Linked DNA regions of Homo sapiens. The gene in region 5 interacts genetically with the main gene of each other region. Each region holds a gene or a part of one and is shown on either strand. Other genes may lie near its edges.

Region 1 (3,678 bases), on a different chromosome or scaffold from region 5:
TGCCAGCCCTTGGGAGGAAGTCTGCAACAGCTATGCAGGAGGAAGCCAGAGACTGGATATGGGCCAGGAGTTTCCCTCTGGGCATGTGGTGGCCGCATTTGACCCTGCAGGACTTCCCTCTGGATGCTTGTATTCTTGGCCACCCCAGAAGTTACAGGTATCAGGTTGCCTAAGTCTTTAGTAAATGTGATTTCTCCTGGTGTGGGGAGAATCCTGCCCAGCATTACTGGTTGTTGTAGGAACCCACTGAATCCTGGATTAAGGGGATTCCACCTGTGTGTTGGCCCTTCTAGTCAGACGGAAGAGCAGAACAGGGCTAAACTGGGGTGTCTGTGGGAAACGGCTCTACCCCAGCCTTATATAGTCAAACACAGGGGCTGTTCTTTCCCTTCCTTCTTCTTCCTGGAGTCATGCCTTCTGGAGTTCTCTGTCCCCAGCTACAATCTGTGCCTGTAGCACAGCCATTGCCCTTCTCTCTCCTGGGTTGAATGTTCTGCCTGTGGATCCCACATCATCCTCTCTTTGACTTACTGATTTGTTTCATTGAAGCACATCCTCCAGTAACTTCCTGAGAAAGGTGCTTGGGGAGGTAAATTGTGTGAGACCTTGCACATCTGAAATGTCTTTTTTTAATCCTCACATTTGATGGTTGGGTATAGAATTTCTAGGTGGAAAGTGCTTTTCCCTTAGAACTTCTACAACATCACTCTGATGTCTTATGGCTTCTAGTGTGGCTGTGGAGAAGTCTCATGTCATTCTGATTTGCTGATCTTCCTAAAAGCTTCATCTCTTAGAGGGAGCTGAGAGTTTCTCATGCCCCTTCCGCTTGGGAGGCCTTTAGGGTCTTCAAGGTGATGTGGTTTGTGGTGGGTCTTCTCTCCACCATACATGGTCCTAGGGGGCCCCTTTTCATCATAACACTCTTGTTCTCCAGGTCAGGGAAATTGTCATGTATTATTTCTTTGACAAATCACCTCTGCCCCTTTCTGGCAACTCACTCCATCCCTACTCCCATTTTCTGAGCTGCTTTTTCTAGAACTTCTGGTGGCTACATGCTAGCTTGATTCTGAGATTCTGATTTTATCTTTTTTCTCTTAATTTTCTTTCTTTCTTTTTTTTTTTTTTTGAGATGGAGTCTCGCTCTGTCACCCAGGCTGGAGTGCAGTGGCGTGATCTCGGCTCACTACAAGCTCCTCCTCCTGGGTTCACGCCACTCTCCTGCCTCAGCGTCCTGAGTAGCTGGGACTACAAGCCCCCGCCACTGTGCCCGGCTAATTTTTTGTATTTTTAGTAGAGATGGGGTTTCACCATGGTCTCGATCTCCTGACCTCGTGATCCGCCTGCCTCTGCCTCCCACAGTGCTGGGATTACAGGCGTGAGCCACCACGCCCAGCCTTTCTCTTTATTTTCTCTGTTTTTTTTGGTTGTTTGTTTTGAGAAAGACTTCTTCAACATTATCTTACAAGTATATGAGTGTTGTTGTTTTTTATTTCCTTGAGACATGGTCCTGCTCTGTTGCCCAGGCTGGAGTGTAGTGTCTCAATCATAGCTCACTGCAGCCTGTCTCCTAGGCTTAAGTGATCCTCACACCTCAGCCTCCTGAGTAGCTGGGACTACAGGCACGTGCCACCATGCTTGGCTAATTCTTGTATTTTTCACAGAGACAGGGTTTCACCTTGTTGAGCAGGCTTGTCTCAAGCTCCTGGCCTCAAGCAATTTGCCTGCCCCAGCCTCCGAAAGTGTTAGGATTACAGGCATAAGCCACTGCACCCGGCCCAAATTTCTTTTTTTGTTTGTTTGTTTGATTTAGTTTCTGTTTTTCTTGTTAAAGGTTTTGCTGGAGTGTCCAGTGAGCCCTGGCTGGATGCCCTTTTTAAAAAAGTGATGCTGGGCTGACATGGTGGCTCATGCCTGTAATCCCAGCACTTTGGGAGTCTGAGGCAGGAGGACTGCTTGAGCCCAAGAGTTTGAGACCAGCTTACATAGCGAGACTCTGTGTCTACAGAAAAATTTTTAAATTAGCCAGGTGTGGGCCAGGTGCGGTGGCTCACACCTGTAATCCCAGCACTTTGGGAGGCTGAGGCGGGTGGATCACGAGGTCAGGAGATCAAGACCATCCTGGCTAATATAGTGAAACTCCATCTCTACTAAAAAAATACAAAAAATTAGCTGGGCGTTGTGGCAGGCGCTTGTAGTCCCAGCTACTCGGGAGGCTGAGGCAGGGGAATGGCCTGAACCCAGGAGGCAGATGGGAGACTGAGGCAGGAGAATGGCGTGAACCTGGGAGACAGAGCTTGCAGCGAGCTGAGATCGCGCCACTGCACTCCAGCCTGGGTGACAGAGCAAGACTCCGTCTCAAAAAAAAAAAAAAAATTAGCCAGATGTGGTTGGGCACAGTGGCTCACCCCTGTAATCCCAGCACTTTGGGAGGCCAAGGCTGGCAGATCATGAGGTCAGGAGTTCGAGACCAGCCTGCCCAACATGGTGAAACCTCGTCTCTACTAAAAATACAAAAATTAGCCAGGCGTGGTGGCACAAGTAGCTGTAATCCCAGCTACTCAGGAGGCTGAGGCAGGAGAATCGCTTGAACCCAGTAGGCGGAGGTTGCAGTGAGCCGAGATCACGCCACTGCACTGCAGCCTGGGCGACAGAGCAAGACTCTGTCTCAAAAAAAAAAAAAAAATTAGCCAGGTATGGTGGTACATGCCTGTAATCCCAGCTACTTGGGAGGCTGAGGCGAAAGAATAACTTAAGCCCAGGAGGTTGAGGCTGCAGTGAGCTATGATTGCTCCACTACGCTCCAGCCTGGGCGACAGAGTGAGACCCTGTCTCAAAAAAATTTTTTTTAAATAAAAACAAAAAAATGATGCTGTAACCGAGGTGTGGTGCACACTTGTAGTCCCAGCTACTCAGGAGGCTACTCAGAGGATGCTTGTGCAGGCCCCAGGTACTTCTCAAAGAGCTCCAGATGGGTCAGTGCCTGGCTGGATGGGGTTGGGAAGGGGGCCTGGGCCTCCAGCTCTTCTTTATCAGCCAGCTAGTCCTCCCATTTCGTCCCCACCTTTGTCCCTTTTCTTAGCAATGCCACTGCACCCTCTGGAGTGCTCTGGTCCTGCACAGGTGGTGTGCTCTGGTTGGCCAGCACCTGTGTTTGGTTTCCTACATGACTCTGAGTCCGTCACCGTGGATCTCTCTGACAGAATTGTGTTGATGTCTCCATCTCCTGTTGTCTCCTTTTTCTCCTGTCATCTCTTTTTCTCTTTATCCTTCTGTTCCCATTTTACTGGGGTGTCAGGATGGAGTAGAAATAAACATAGGTTCAGTTTACTAGGTTTAACTGGTTTCACTGCAATTCCTGTTGGTCAAACACAAACTGAGTGCCCACTGTGTGCAGAGCAGCACTGAGTAGGTTCTTCTGTGCCACGGGTCTGCTCCCCTGCTGGGAGCACAGGCATCCTCTCCTTCTAACTTCCTTGGGGCATTCTCTCCAAGGAAGGGGAGGGCCAGCCCAGCCGTTGCAAGTCTGGAGGAGACTGGCCAGGCAGGTGGACCTGGCAGCAGCTGGTCCTTATGAGAAATCCAGTCCCCAGAGAGCCTGTGCTGCGGCCCTCACTGCCCACTTCAGGGCCCACTCTGGCCCCTTCCTTCCCCAGGGCCAGAGGCTGAGTTAACCCTAGT
Region 2 (2,899 bases), on a different chromosome or scaffold from region 5:
CTGATTTGTTTGGCTGTTTGGCATCTGAAACAATCCAAGACAAACTTAGAAAGATTAGGCAACACAAAACACAGTAAGACCTGTTCATAGCTTGTTGTCTAGAAAACCAGGTAGCAGGATATTCTAGATGCTTCCTGCTGCTTCTACGTGAGTAGGATTAGCACTGGGGACAAAATAAGGAGTTTAGAGTAAACCAGTATTTCAGTCAAGAGTTAGTTGGCACTTAGTTAATGGCACTGGAAATAGCTTGTGGAGAGAATAGAATACAATGGTATAGACTCCTAATGTTTGATAAAATACTATTTTCAGAGTGGTAGAGAGGTTTTATTTGCCTAAATAGCCGTTATTAAATGGAATAACAACCACATTAGACCAAATTAATTGCAAACACAGCGGCAACCTGGGGAGAAGTTGAAACTCCAGTTTTGTGGATTACAGTTTTGAGTTTTATGATTGACATTTTTAAGTCCCCTATTTAAGGGGTCAAGATTATAACAATGTGTGTCTTACTAAGTTTCTAGGTCATTGTGAGCACTTGATAAATATTTGCTGAATGTTGTTTTTTTGAATGAACATAAGATAGAAACAAAAACTTCTCATCCAGTTAACTAGAGTGAATGTAGGGAGAATTGTTTTGCTTGTAACATGGAGAGTTTATTTTCAAGTGAGGAAAGAGAAAAAAATTACTCAGACTTGTTCCTGGTGAAGTGCATTCTCTGTTTGTATACTTTTTGATGGAGAAATTGATCTATAGAACTGCTTAATTTTTTGAGGCATTTAGACAGCAATGAAAGGTAGTTCTCCACAGGACACCGAATCAAAAGGAGAGACCAGACTCTGGCCTCATACCCAGCCTATTTGAAACAAGCTATCTAGTTTCTCCTGCAGACACCTTGTCAACAACATGCAACAGTGTCAGGTGCCTTGCAGGAAAATAATCTGAGTCCCAAGCTAGCCTGTGCTCATCCACAATCACAATGAACATGTCAAGGAAGAATTTGCAGAGACTCAAGGGAAGCACAATGGGATAAGGTAATCACTTTCAGTGAAAAACTGTTTTCTTGAAAACAGGCTTGGACACAATTGAAAGCTGGCTTCCTGCAAACACACCAAGAGTCTGTAATCTAGCCTATCCATTATATGTCCTTTATTATTCATGATATCCTATTCTTCTACCTTGTTGCCTGGTAACTTTTTCTGAGGACTGAGTTTCTGCAGCGATGTGGTGCACTCTTCCTGTGATGAGGAAACATCTGGGCCCCCTTCTGCAGGCTTTGGAAGATGATGTGTCTTGTCAAGGGGTAAAGGGCAAATGGATTTAATTTCTGCTTAAAACTATCATAGACGTTCCAAATAGAATATGTAAAATTTCTCTGTATTAGAAAAAGAAACGTGATACCAATTGTATATTTTCTTTTCTTTATTTATTCTCTGTAAGTCTGTCAGATGATAAATTGTAAATAACAATGATTAAAGAGTCATGCTACTGATGGATCTCCCTTTCTGTATAAACAGTGCCAGTTCTGGGCTTTGTAACCTTTGCTCTTTATAGTCTTTCATTCCTGGGGAAGTGATGGGGCATGGGCCCAGAGCTGGGGTGTATGTGGTATGGACACCTGTTTGTGGGGCTTTCCAGCAAAGGATTATTTAAATAGACCTCTAACATATGAGTTGACTGTTTATTGGGAAGAAAGCATCTTGGTCTCTGACATATCCAAACATACGAGACACTGGGATTTTACGTCCTCACATTAATTAGTCCAGTTCTGGGGAATCCAGTCTAGAATTAACTGGTGATCCCTTATCGTTATGGTTACAGACTTGTCTTGTTTGATACACAGAAATCCTTTTTAAATCCAAATATAGTCTGTCTCAGACTACCTGCACATGCACAAACCAAAAAAAACTATGAAAACCAGAATTTAGACTCAGTCATTATACTAGAGATTAGAATGAAACGACCCCAAACAACCCATTTCTTACCTGGTCTCTGAGAATAAGTTTATACTTTTAGTTTTCTGAGAATATTTCTCAGAATATGTGAGTTTTCTGAGCACATTTTTCAGCATGGGGTATGGTAGATAAATCACAGGGCCAAGGTTTGGCAGGGATAGATGGGATCATTGTGTACCCTATTGTTCTTCTGATTTCCAGGAGAACAGAATGAGCCCATGCAAAACATAAACTTATGATGATTAAAAAAAACACACCTATCCATTCACTCATCAATAAAAACATATTATGATGGTTATCAAGCTGTGTCCTATGAGTGATAAAATATTTGTAAAATATAAAATTAAATGGCATCTATTTTGAACTCTATTCTAGTCTCTCTGAGCACCTCTAGCAGTTCAGCCCATCTTTCAAAAGTCATAACACCTTGAAAGCAGCAACTTTAGTGCAGAAAAAGGAAGAAGAGAGCAGTTTCATCACTTGGCTTGAATGAAAATCTTGGGGAAAGGAGAGACAGACGGTCTTGCTCTGAAGCTGTCTGGACTTCACTTAATTCAGTCTGTCTTAGGCTGGCGGTCATCCCGAGACTGCGGTAATGCTGAGCCTCCACAGCCCAGGCCCTCTCCCTTCTTTATAGAAATGATTTTTTTATGGGACAGCCACACAACCAGGTCTTCTTCTTATTCCTTATCACCTCTGAGCTCTAGAACATTTTAAAATGAGTCTTTGGGTCTAGACTCTCACAATTAGGCTTAATTTTACTCCATGACTTTCAGAAAATGTTGTTAAATTGTGGTCTCTTTAGAACAGTTGAAAGTGGGATAAGCGTAGGAGCTGAGTTCCACCCCCATGATAAAGAAATTTTATTGGCCGGGCGCGGTGGCTCATGCCGGTAATCCCAACACTTTGGGAGGCCGAGGCAGGCAGATCACTTGAGCTCAGGAGT
Region 3 (3,678 bases), on a different chromosome or scaffold from region 5:
GATGAGGGGAAGAACTCCTGGTGTTAAAAGAAATGCTCTAAAGCAGCTTACCAACACAGAATGCAAGCCACATCTGTAATTTTAAATTTTCAAGTAGCCACATTAAGAATTAAAAAGAGTCGGGCATGGTGGCTCACACCTGTAATCCTAACACTTTGGGAGGCTGAGGCGGGCGGATCATCTGAGGTCAGGAGTTTGAGACCAGCCTGGCCAACATGGTGGTGAAACCCCGTCTCCAGTTAAAATACAAAAATTAGACGGGCATGGTGGCACATGCTTGTAATTCCAGCTACTTGGGAGGCTGAGGCAAGAGAATCGCTTGAACCCAGGAGACGGAGGTTGCAGTGAGCCGAGATCGCGCCGCTGCACTCCAGCCTGGGTGATGAGAGCGAAACTCCGCCTCAAAAAAAAAAAAAAAGAATAAAAAGGAAACAGGCAGGTGAAATTTAAGAACACATTTTACTTAATCTAATATATCCAAAATGTTATATTTCAACATGTTATCAACATAGTAATTATTAATGAAATGGTGTACAGAGTTTTTGCTATACTATGTCTTGGAAATCTAGTGTATATTTTACACCTAAAGCAGTCCCAATTCGGACAAGCCACAGTTCAAGTACTCAATAAGCCACGTGGCTTACTCAATAAGCGGCTACCACACTGGACAATGCAGGTCTAAATGGAATCTACGCAAACCAAGAGGAAGTTCTGATTCAACTAGAAAATCTCCAAGAAATATGCCCATGCCTGAGTTTTCAGGACAAGGGGAAGGGAAGTCAATTTCCCGGAAAGCAGTTACCAATTTTATATAAGTACTCCATTGTGAAATCACAAGGAACATCAGCAGGGCTGGGATGGTCAAGGAGAAGGCTGCAGGGCGTGGCCTTGGGGAAGCAGGTGACCAACCAACAGGTGATATCAAGGCTCTGTCTGTCACCAGCAGAGCCCACCTTCTAACCATCGTTAACATTTTCACGGTGCTTTTCCTTCCTCCTTTTCATCTTCCAACAGCCCTATGAGGAAGGCAGGCTTTACCCCATTCCACATATGAAGAAACCAAGGCCCAGGCAATTTAAATAACTTGCTCATTTCTAGTCGCCACTCTTAGACTTGGACCCAGAATGCAGGCCTCACCCCTACCCCAGGGGTCTTCAATCAGTAGCTCATCAGAAACAGCCAAAAACCTATGGCAAGACCAAAGTAACTACCTACCTAGTTCGTGAACAACTCTCCACTTAATGACGTTTCATATGGCACCTCCCTTCTCTAAAGAGCTTATGAGTTTTCAAAACATCCTCATGCCCATATATGATCACCACTAAGGGATGTACTGGACTGCCCTAGAAATATCCTAAAAAAGCCCAACTACAGCCCAGAAGGGCTGGCCCATCCAAGGTCATTCCTGGCCCTCATCACCACATTCAACATCTCTTTTCTACTCCATGCTGCCTCCCTTGATAACACCTTTTACTTTTCAGATAAAATTTTTAAATGTCAAGGTTATTTAAAAAATATATTTTGTTGTTTTCTCAAACCAGTGGGTAACTTAATGATAGGGCAGTTTTAATCAACCACACAAGTGACTTTAGCATAAGATCTCCCTCCAACTCCAGCCAACCTTAAAGTGGCCTGACTGCATTCTCAGAGCTCTACAAGGTACTGGCTGCAGCCAGTGGGACCCCTGCCCTCACTAATCAATGTTCACATACGCACTGATCCAATTCTGCAGAATAGAAAAGTGCGTGGCAGATCAGGGTACACAGATCCTTTTCCTGCCTCAGGACTGGTTGAACGGGAACTGAAGGGCTACCTGGGAGGTCTGTCCTTTATTTACTTTACACACTTCACCCCTGTGGGGTCTCGCCTTTTATTTATTTTAGGCAAGTCTAACAATTTGGGGTTTCTTGGTTCTTCATAACTAGAGAACATGGGTTCCTTACATCTTTAACTGGGCCAACACTTAAATAATAGCTATTTATAGCTAACACACTGACTTCAAACCAGTGAGGAAAAGCTTCCTAGCCAATATACATAACTATTGCTGAATGCAATAAGGTGAAGGCTCAGAGTCACATTTTAATACCAAACAGCCTGGTTCTTAAGGAACTGATCACATGAAGGCAAGAGCTCAGTTATTCTCAAGGGAAAATAAGCATATTGCAGATAAATATACAAGAAGCTTCAAAATACCACCATCTGACCCCCAGAACAGTAAATACTTTCCAAAGTTCCTTCACTCGTGAAATCTTAAGATTTTCACAACTGTTCAGTAAACAGGTATAAAAGAACGAAAACAGAATCCCAGAGGTTTAAAAATGCACCCTGCTACACAGCTACCTGCAAGTACAGCCTGAACCTGGGACTTGCAGAAATGGGTCCAGAGGTCTCCCACCTGGGCCAGGTGCTCTGTCATAACCAGGACACCTGAGTATCATAACATCATCACTAGGACCTAAGGACCACTTTCACAGGATATGAGTTAGTGCTTTACCTTCCCTTTATTTAACCATATTCCAAGTCCATTCAAACTAAGGAAGTCCTGCAGAACAAAAAATATCACTTCGCACAAAGGATGAAAGAGCTGACACATAAGCAGCCCCCAGCTGCCAAGGCTCAGGGACTTCCAAGCACACCAGGTCACCTTTCTCATCAGGAATTCAAAGCTGAAGGTCAGCAAGTGTCTAGCCCAGGAGTGTGCTGGATTATTTCTAACATGTGATTTGAACAGTCTTGACAGCAGCCATGATGGCCTCCAGCCACGCCACAGTCCCGCAATCCAAGAGTCCCAGATGCAAAGGAAAGCCAACCAAGACCCCCACTGGGAACCACTTCCGCACAGCAGGCATGCCACGTCCTAAATGCAACACGACTGCACCCTGCCCAGCGGAACTCGTGCACTCAGAAGAGAAGGGAGGTCAAGGAGGAGGAGAGGAGAGAGAGAGGCAGAGAGAAAGCAGCAGTCAGCATCATTCTTACTTTTCTGGCAGCGGTTTGTGGTCCAGCAGCGGTAGTTGTACTCATTGTTGATGGTGGTCTTCTCACACATCGGCTTCTCCTCCATGGTCCCTGGACACAGGTCCCCACATTCCTTTGGGGGCTTATTCCCCACAATGTAGTTATTGGACACCGCATCCAGGATCAGGGACCAGTCCACAGTGGAGAGGTAACAGAGGTCAGCATTTTTCTCAATCCTGATGGCCCCCCGAGTAATGTTCCTCAGGTTGTAAAGCCCAATATCCTTGAGATTGGTCATCTCGAAGATGACCAGGGCGTAGTTGTAGAAGAGTTTCCAGCCGCGGATGACCGTGAGGTTGGGGAAGAGGTCTCCGAGGCTCTCGAGGCCAGCCACTCGGAACAGCAGCAAGTACTCGGTAATGACCGTGAGCTTGGGGAAGCGGTAGCTGCGGTAGTCCTCGGCCTTGGAGATGAGCAGGATGTGGAGGTAGCCCTCGATCACCGTGCAGTTCTCCAGGCGCTTCAGCTGCTGATAGTCGTTGCGGATGTCGATGCCTGGCCCGCAGACTGAAGGGAGACAAGAGGGTAAACGTCTCAGTTAGAAGGAAATAATTTTTAAACTATTTTCCAAACAATAATACAGTTGGTTTTCAGGAATCCTGTATTATTATTAAAGAAATGAGGTTCAATTGTTCACTGCAGAGCTGTGGGTTGCAGACT
Region 4 (4,132 bases), on a different chromosome or scaffold from region 5:
GCTCACACTTGTAATCCCAGCACTTTGGGAGGCCAAGGCGGGCAGATCACGAGGTCACGAGATCGAGACTATCCTGGCCAACATGGTGAAACCCTGTCTCTACTAAAAATACAAAAATTAGCTGGACATGGTGGTGCGTGCCTGTAATCCCAGCTACTCGGGAGGCTGAGGCAGGAGAATCGCTTGAACCAGGGAGTCAGAGGTTGCAGTGAGCCAAGATGGCACCACTGCACTCTAGCCTGGTGACAGAGCGACACTCGGTCTCAAAAAATAAATAAATAAAATAATAATAATAAATATTTCAGGGGAGAATTAGATGAGATGATTGTAAAATGCATAGCCCTAGCTGTGCCCCAGCACATAGTAGGTGCTTGATAAGAAATTTGTTACCTCCTTAATAATGGGTATTTGTTCAGCCTGTGAACCAATGTGTTTTTTTTTTTTAAGTAAAATCCACGGCTAGGCATGGTGGCTCACGCCTATAATCCCAGCACTTTGGGAGGCCGAGGCGGGCAAATCACCTGAGGTAAGGAGTTCGAGACTAGCCTGGCTGACATGGTGAAACCCCGTCTCTACTAAAAATACAAAAATTAGCCAGGTGTGGTGGCAGGCGCCTGTAATCCCAGCTACTCAGGAGGCTGAGGCAGGAGAATAGCTTGAACCCAGGAGGCGGAGGTTGCAGTGAGCTGCGATCGTGCCACTGCACTCCAGCCTGGGGGAGAAGAGCGAGACTCCGTCTCAAAAAAAAAAAAAAAAAAATCCACATAGCAAAATTTACCATTGTTACTGTTTTCAATGTGTTTTTTAAAAATTCAGGTAAGTTTTGTATACTTTCTGATTCTTAAGTTGGAAAACAAGGTAACCTCTAATATGGGCTGTGAGGCCTTCCTCTGCCCAAGCAGTTGCAGATATGAACCCTGAATATAAAGAGATCTTAGGCTAGAAAGGATCTTGGGCAGAGCTGAATGGCTCTAAGCATTTGACCTCACATTGGTTTCCTCCTGAGAAGAGTCAACAGAGTCCAGCATCTTCTTCCAAGGTCAGGGAAGGGCAAAGATTTGAAATTAGGCATCACTGGGTTCTCAGCTGGGCCTCCAAGTTCCCCTCCTCTCACTATGCAGAGCAAAGAGGAGGTTGCAGAAGAGAAGAGGATATGAGATTGGTTCTCTGCTCCTCCCTTTCTTTCCCTGCTTTCCCCACACCCACCCTCTCCCCCACAGCAGCCTTCTCCCCCACAGAGGCTGGGATAGGATGAGGGGGGCGGAGTTGGGGACTGAGGGATCAGAAGCCCCAGGATGCCCTGTATCTGAAGAAAGATTTGGCCAGGGGCAGCTGTGCTGGCTTATGCTCTTCTCCTTCTGCTGCTGCCATCCTCCAGCAAGATGCTAGGGTCTTTGGGGCTTTGGGCATTACTTCCCACAGCTGTGGAAGGTAAGTGTCTACAGGGAGGGGAAGGGTCTCTCCATCCATCCAGCAAGGGAAAGGGGCGCTTGAAGCAAGAGCCACCCCTTTGGAAGAGTGGTGAGTGGGCTGGGTGAGTAAGGGTGAAGGATAGAGCCATGTGTCCCCATGGCAGGGCTCAGGTTCCAGGCCTCTGCTGACCCTGCTTCCTCCTGTGGCTTTACCATACTGACGCTGGGATGTGGAACATGTTTTGTCTATTCTTTTGGCCAGTTTTTTGCCTCTGCATTCACTCCCACCTTGAATCTTTTCCTTTCCCCACCCTGGGCCTCAGCACCCCCAAACAGGCGAACCTGTGTGTTCTTTGAGGCCCCTGGAGTGCGGGGAAGCACAAAGACACTGGGAGAGCTGCTAGATACAGGCACAGAGCTCCCCAGAGCTATCCGCTGCCTCTACAGCCGCTGCTGCTTTGGGATCTGGAACCTGACCCAAGACCGGGCACAGGTGGAAATGCAAGGTGAATGGCAAAGTATATGGCAGGTGATGGCTAGGGTGGGAGACAGACACATCCTGGGGTGTGGGTGGCAACCAAGGGGGAAGGGGAGAAATAGAACATCTGGTGGGAAAGAAAAGCCCATGAGAGCTGGAAGGGACGCCTCTGATAGAGAAGGGATTTACCCTCTGTTTCCACACCCCATTGTGCTTTCTTCCTTGCCCCCCCTTTCTCTCCTCTTCCCCTAATCCCATCCCATCAGGATGCCGAGACAGTGATGAGCCAGGCTGTGAGTCCCTCCACTGTGACCCAAGTCCCCGAGCCCACCCCAGCCCTGGCTCCACTCTCTTCACCTGCTCCTGTGGCACTGACTTCTGCAATGCCAATTACAGCCATCTGCCTCCTCCAGGGAGCCCTGGGACTCCTGGCTCCCAGGGTCCCCAGGCTGCCCCAGGTAGCCACCCAAGGGTACTGAAGCCTGATGGGGGCTGGGGCCCAGGTTAGGATGAGAGGTGGAACCAGGGCCAGTTCTCACCCTACTCCCGCCCCACGCTTTCCTCCTCCTGGCCTTGGGAAGTTGGTTGCCCTGGTGACTGGGAGATAAGGGGTCTTGTGACCAGGGTGGGGGTGGGTTGAGACGCAAGCTCTCAGGAGGGGAAGAGCAGAGAGCAGGTTTGGGTCAGTGCTCTCCAGCCTGCATTCTTGCCTTGATGTCCAGGTGAGTCCATCTGGATGGCACTGGTGCTGCTGGGGCTGTTCCTCCTCCTCCTGCTGCTGCTGGGCAGCATCATCTTGGGTACTAATCCACCCCATCCCTCCCTTGTGACCCCAAGACATTGCCCCAAAAGCTCTGACCCCTCTCCAGGCACCCCTGACCCCATGGTCTTGGGATCTCTATAGCCTGATTCCCGGACTCCCATGACCTCTCACAAAGCTCCCTTTCCACGAAGTCCCTTTTCCTGTCCCTATGCATTTGCACCCTGACCCTAAGGCTCTTGTCTGTTCCAGCCCTGCTACAGCGAAAGAACTACAGAGTGCGAGGTGAGCCAGTGCCAGAGCCAAGGCCAGACTCAGGCAGGGACTGGAGTGTGGAGCTGCAGGAGCTGCCTGAGCTGTGTTTCTCCCAGGTGCCCCAGGGAGGGAGAGAAGGGCTCCTCTGGGCACTCCTGGAGGTTGTGCTGGGGAGGAATCCTGGCCCTGTTATAGCTCAGAGGCCCACACTCAGCACAGTGTCCCCAGCAGGTAATCCGGGAAGGAGGTCATGCAGTGGTTTGGGCCGGGCAGCTGCAAGGAAAACTGGTTGCCATCAAGGCCTTCCCACCGAGGTCTGTGGCTCAGTTCCAAGCTGAGAGAGCATTGTACGAACTTCCAGGCCTACAGCACGACCACATTGTCCGATTTATCACTGCCAGCCGGGGGGGTCCTGGCCGCCTGCTCTCTGGGCCCCTGCTGGTACTGGAACTGCATCCCAAGGTGAGCACCAAGGAGTGTATATGTGTGTGTGTGTGCCTGTGTGTATGTATAGAGGTGGGGGCTACATGGCAGCTGGGCCCTGTTGATTGCTTCTGCTTTCGATTTTCTCTTTTCTAAAACATTAAAAATGGCCAGGCGAGGTGGCCCACACCTGTAATCCCAGGACTTTGGGAGGCCAAGGTGGGTGGATCGCTTAAGCCCAGGAGCTCAAGACCAGCCTAGGCAATATGAGGAAACCCCATCACTGCAAAATTACAAAAATTAGCTCAGCATGGCAGTGCACACCTGTAGTCCCAGCTACTCAGGAGGCTGAGGTGGAAAGATCGCTTGAGCTTAGGAGGTTGAGGCTGCAGTGAGCCGTGAGCATCCCACTGCACTCCAGCCTGGGAGACAGAGCGAGACCATGTGAAAAAATAGTAACAGGCTGGGCACGGTGGCAGACGCCTGTAATCCCAGCACTTTGGGAGGCCAAGGTGTGAGGATCACTTGAACCCAGGAATTCAAGAACAGCCTGGGCAACACCGTGAAACCCCACCTCTACAAAAAACAAAAAATTGGCTGGGTGTGATGGCACATGCCTGTGGTCCCAGCTACTTGGGAGGCTGAAGTGGAAGGAGCACCTGAGCCTGGGGAGGTCAAGGCTGGCAGTGAGCCAAGATTGTGCCACTGCACTCCAGCCTAGGTGACAGAGTAAGACCCTGTCTCAAAATAATAATTTTTATTTATCTTTTTTATTACATAAACAATACATGTTTATATATTTTT
Region 5 (3,678 bases):
TGCCGAGTTTAGGAAGGGCAAGCCTAGAAGTGCTTGGGAGGCCAGGTGAGGGGAAGGAGGGGTTGAATCCAAAGTCCTGGCAGGAGTGTCACCCAAGAGATGGAAGACATTGGGAGAAGAAGGGACAAGAGCATGAGGGCACCTCTCCAGCAACTCTTCCTGCCTTTGCTGACCCTGTCTCCTACCCCAATCCCGCCATTGGCGGGCTTCTGGGGTCTTGCCCAGGGCCCCACAGGACACAATGCTGGTTTCTCAACTTGCTCAGTGCTTTATTGAACCAAGGCCCTAACAGATGACTCAGCAGGGCCTTCAAGCACAGCCCTGCCCCCATCTTGAGATTCAGAATCCAGAGGGTGCTCAGTCCTTGGTTTAGCTGCTTCTGTGACATTTCCTCTTGAATAGCTCCAAACCCTAAGTGTAAATATTTTTGTCCACACAAATAGGCACACATATATTCCTGCTGCAGGCTGTCATGCTCAACAAAACGCTCCCACCTGGTTTGGGTATGCAAGGCACTGCGCATCCACGGCCATCCACGGCCATCCACCCATCCATCCAACCTTCCATCCATCCGCAACAAGACAGCAGCAAGTTCTGAGCAGTCAGGCCCCAGGGTTCACAGCAGTAGGGGCTGGGCTTCCAGCAGGCTCATGATTCAGGCCTTAACCCTTGCCCTGGGAGCCCCCAAGGATAATAACATCCCTTTCTGGGGCAACAAAACTGGGACCGAGTGGGTAACTGATATTTGACAGGGGAACCTAAACAGTCTACGGAAGTGTCCTGAGATGGGCGTAAAGTCAAACAGACCAAGCACACAGGTAACACTGAAATAGGAAAGAGTAAGAGCTTCTGTTCAGGCTGGAGGTGCTCGTATGGTGGGACAGGAAAGGGGAAAAGAGAAAGGGGCAACATGGCAGACATACCACGGTTCCTACAGAGATTAGGGGCAGCCCTGGCCCGGGAAGTACACAGGGCAGAGAGCTGACTCTCAGGCCAGGAAGGAGTTTAGCTCTGACCCATCCTCAGGGACCACGGCTCTCCCCCAGCCTCAGCTGACACACACACAAAGGAGCGTTTCAGGACACAGGAAGATGAAGGGTTAACCCTAACAAGGAAACAAGAAGCTCCTGGAGGACACAAAATACTGCCTTTAAGCTGGTATTAACCCAACTTAACTAACTCAACAGACTGGGCTCTTCCAGGGGTGGGGGGCACCAGGATATGGAAAATGATGGGATGACACAGGGGAATCTGGGCTGGGGCAGACAGGCAGGACACCCACACCATCTTTCCCATGGACAGCACCTGAGGCCTCCAGCAGGCCCTCAGCCCGGCAGGCCCATAGGGCAGCTGGCTTCAGGCCTCGAAAGGCAAGGGAGGTAGCAGGACTGGCGCAGGCCCCTCACTGGTCCTGCAGCCGGCTACAGAGCTCCCGCCGGCTCCGCTCCCCAGCCCAGCTGCGAGTCTTGAGGCGGAAGGTCTTTAGCTCATCCTTGAAGGCCTCGTGGTTCATGGGCCGGTAGTCCTGGGGTTCACAGAAGTTCTAGGGCAGGACAGGAGGGGTCAATGCAGTGGAATGGGTAAGTTTGGCAGGGACCCAACCCTCCCACCCCCCATCCCATGGCTCCAGCCTGGCCAAGCCAACCCTCACACAGAGACTGTGGCCTTCCCCACCCACGCTACCGGGTGCTGAGGGAAGAACTCCTTGTAGCCGCCTTTCAGGATATACATCTCAGGGTAGTAGAGGCTGGGGTAGTCGTTGACAGCACGGTCTCGTTCCCTGATGAAACGGCACCTGGGGCGTCATGGGCAGGGTGTGGTCAGAGTGGGGCATGCAGTGGCTTGTACATCATGGGACCTATCCCCCACGTCCCCTCCTTTGAGGGCCTTGGGGAGCCACAGAAAGCTTTAGAGCACAGGAATGTAACCACAAGAACACTTTTAGGTCACTCTGGCTACAGAAGAGGGTGGGGAGGCGGAAGGAAGGAGGTAAAATCAAGGGGATGAACTCTCCGTTTCTAGAAGGCAGTTGCACAATCTTTGTTAGAGATATCTGTGCCTGGACCAGGAAAGGAGAAGCAGGAGAGGAGACAAGTGGGCCAAATTCAAGGGATCCATTCGGGCCACTCCTGGACAAGACCTGGTGAGGATCAGTGGTGGGGAGAAGGGAGGAGGAGGACCCAAGACTGAAGCCAGTGCCCAGGCCCGGTGCCCAGGTGGAGGTGGGTGCCATATGCTGGGATGCCTGGAGAAGTTGGGAGGGCCGCAGGGATGCGACTCTGTAAGGGGCGTCTGGGTGCAGATTCCCACCACATGGGTGAGGCCAGGCTGGGGAGCCACTAGCAGTCATATGGACCAGTGGCAACCCAGGAGGAGGCAGGGGTGGGAGGACAGATGGCCAGGCAGAACAGGAATAGCGACAGAAGGAGCTCAGCCAGGGAGGCCCAGGTGCTGTGGATGCCAATGGAAGAGGTTCTAATGGAGACCTAACAGCACTGAACATGGGGAGGGTCCGTGTACTGGGGACTGACACGCGGCCCTTAGATTTCGAGAAAAGACACCGCTAGAGACTTGGAACTAAATTTTCTGAGGGTGGCAGTAATGGATGTGGGGTGGACATGAGGCTTGATAGGCAGGACAGTGAGGGAGATGGGAGGCGGGTACCATGCACAGTGAAGTGGGGCTGAGGTCAGCTCTAGGCCATCAGATGGGACAGAGGAGGACCTGGACTTGCACCCCTGGCCATCTCAATGGTGCCAGCACCTGTGAGCCTGGGCAGGGAAGGCCAGGGCAGACACTAGCTGGCTGGGCGGAGCTGGGACTCACATGCGGGGCCCACGCTCAGATGAGAATTCACAGTGGAAAATGAGGATGACTCTCTTGTCCAGGCTACAGGGCGCGATGGGGCTCTTCAGTAGGAAGCTCTCGGCGTCGCGTTCCAGGGGCAAGTTCACCGCAGTCTGTCAGAGGAGCCAGAGGTCAGGCACAGCCCCGGGTCCAGGAGTCAGGGCCCTCCCCGTGCAGTCGCTGTCCTTCTCTTAGTAGGAACCCTCCCCATGAGAGGGGGCACCCGTCCTCCACCCATTCACCCTCTTGGCAAAGCAAGGACCTAAACCAGGTGGGATCTTCAGGGCCTCTCCCCATTGCCCCATCTTACCTTGATGTGCCCGCCTTCATATTCATAGGGGTATCTGCAGTCTACAATCACAAACTTATCCACGATGTTGCTGAACTTGCCCGTCAATAGGGCCACCATCTGTAGGAGGTCATGGGGGTTGGTTCCGGCAGGTCAGGCTGGCAGCTGGCAGGTGGCCCTAGCCTGTCCCCAGGGAAGGTCAACAATGGAGCTACAGTCCCAAATCTGCCTAGAAAATGACGCAACGCTGTTTACCGTTTCTGGTGAGATGTACTTGAGGTCTTGGTGCTTTCCGTCTACTGTCTGTAGGAGGAAGGCCTGAAGGGAACGGAAGGGATGAGGGAGAGGGGAGAAAGTTAAATTGGTAAGACCAGGAGCCTCAAAGAATGAAGTTTCATTCCCAAAATCAGAGGCCACACCTGCTTTGGCCTTCAAATTCAGTTCTGGTTCCCATGGCAACTGAGAGGCACCTCTTGGGTCTGACACCCAGGGAACAACCTTCCAAGGGGAAAGAGAAATGAAAAAGGGAAGTGGAAGAGATG

The links.
Region 1: changes in CDC25B (region 5) and PFKFB4 together harm fitness more than expected from each alone (negative genetic interaction), as found in Homo sapiens cells (one large-scale study listed by BioGRID).
Region 2: changes in CDC25B (region 5) and DDR2 together harm fitness more than expected from each alone (negative genetic interaction), as found in Homo sapiens cells (one large-scale study listed by BioGRID).
Region 3: changes in CDC25B (region 5) and IGF1R together harm fitness less than expected from each alone (positive genetic interaction), as found in Homo sapiens cells (one large-scale study listed by BioGRID).
Region 4: changes in CDC25B (region 5) and AMHR2 together harm fitness more than expected from each alone (negative genetic interaction), as found in Homo sapiens cells (one large-scale study listed by BioGRID).

The regions. Positions count from the first base shown.
Region 1 is NC_000003.12:48,539,782-48,543,459, reverse strand, and holds part of PFKFB4 (6-phosphofructo-2-kinase/fructose-2,6-bisphosphatase 4), read left to right. Parts: intron 1-3,678. UniProt on the Homo sapiens protein: Synthesis and degradation of fructose 2,6-bisphosphate.
Region 2 is NC_000001.11:162,785,084-162,787,982, forward strand, and holds the end of DDR2 (discoidin domain-containing receptor 2 precursor), read left to right. Parts: 3' UTR 1-2,322; downstream 2,323-2,899. UniProt on the Homo sapiens protein: Tyrosine kinase involved in the regulation of tissues remodeling. It functions as a cell surface receptor for fibrillar collagen and regulates cell differentiation, remodeling of the extracellular matrix, cell migration and cell proliferation.
Region 3 is NC_000015.10:98,707,409-98,711,086, reverse strand, and holds part of IGF1R (insulin-like growth factor 1 receptor isoform 1 precursor), read right to left. Parts: intron 3,526-3,678; coding exon 2,980-3,525; intron 1-2,979. UniProt on the Homo sapiens protein: Receptor tyrosine kinase which mediates actions of insulin-like growth factor 1 (IGF1). Binds IGF1 with high affinity and IGF2 and insulin (INS) with a lower affinity. The activated IGF1R is involved in cell growth and survival control.
Region 4 is NC_000012.12:53,422,553-53,426,684, forward strand, and holds the start of AMHR2 (anti-Muellerian hormone type-2 receptor isoform 1 precursor), read left to right. Parts: upstream 1-1,302; 5' UTR 1,303-1,382; coding exon 1,383-1,431; intron 1,432-1,735; coding exon 1,736-1,918; intron 1,919-2,156; coding exon 2,157-2,348; intron 2,349-2,533; exon of another isoform or gene 2,534-2,604; coding exon of another isoform or gene 2,605-2,612; coding exon 2,613-2,690; intron 2,691-2,902; coding exon 2,903-3,021; intron 3,022-3,133; coding exon of another isoform or gene 3,134-3,136; coding exon 3,137-3,367; intron 3,368-4,132. UniProt on the Homo sapiens protein: On ligand binding, forms a receptor complex consisting of two type II and two type I transmembrane serine/threonine kinases.
Region 5 is NC_000020.11:3,802,686-3,806,363, reverse strand, and holds the end of CDC25B (M-phase inducer phosphatase 2), read right to left. Parts: intron 3,635-3,678; exon of another isoform or gene 3,556-3,634; intron 3,455-3,555; coding exon 3,392-3,454; intron 3,257-3,391; coding exon 3,158-3,256; intron 2,961-3,157; coding exon 2,827-2,960; intron 1,796-2,826; coding exon 1,684-1,795; intron 1,544-1,683; coding exon 1,403-1,543; 3' UTR 249-1,402; downstream 1-248. UniProt on the Homo sapiens protein: Tyrosine protein phosphatase which functions as a dosage-dependent inducer of mitotic progression. Directly dephosphorylates CDK1 and stimulates its kinase activity.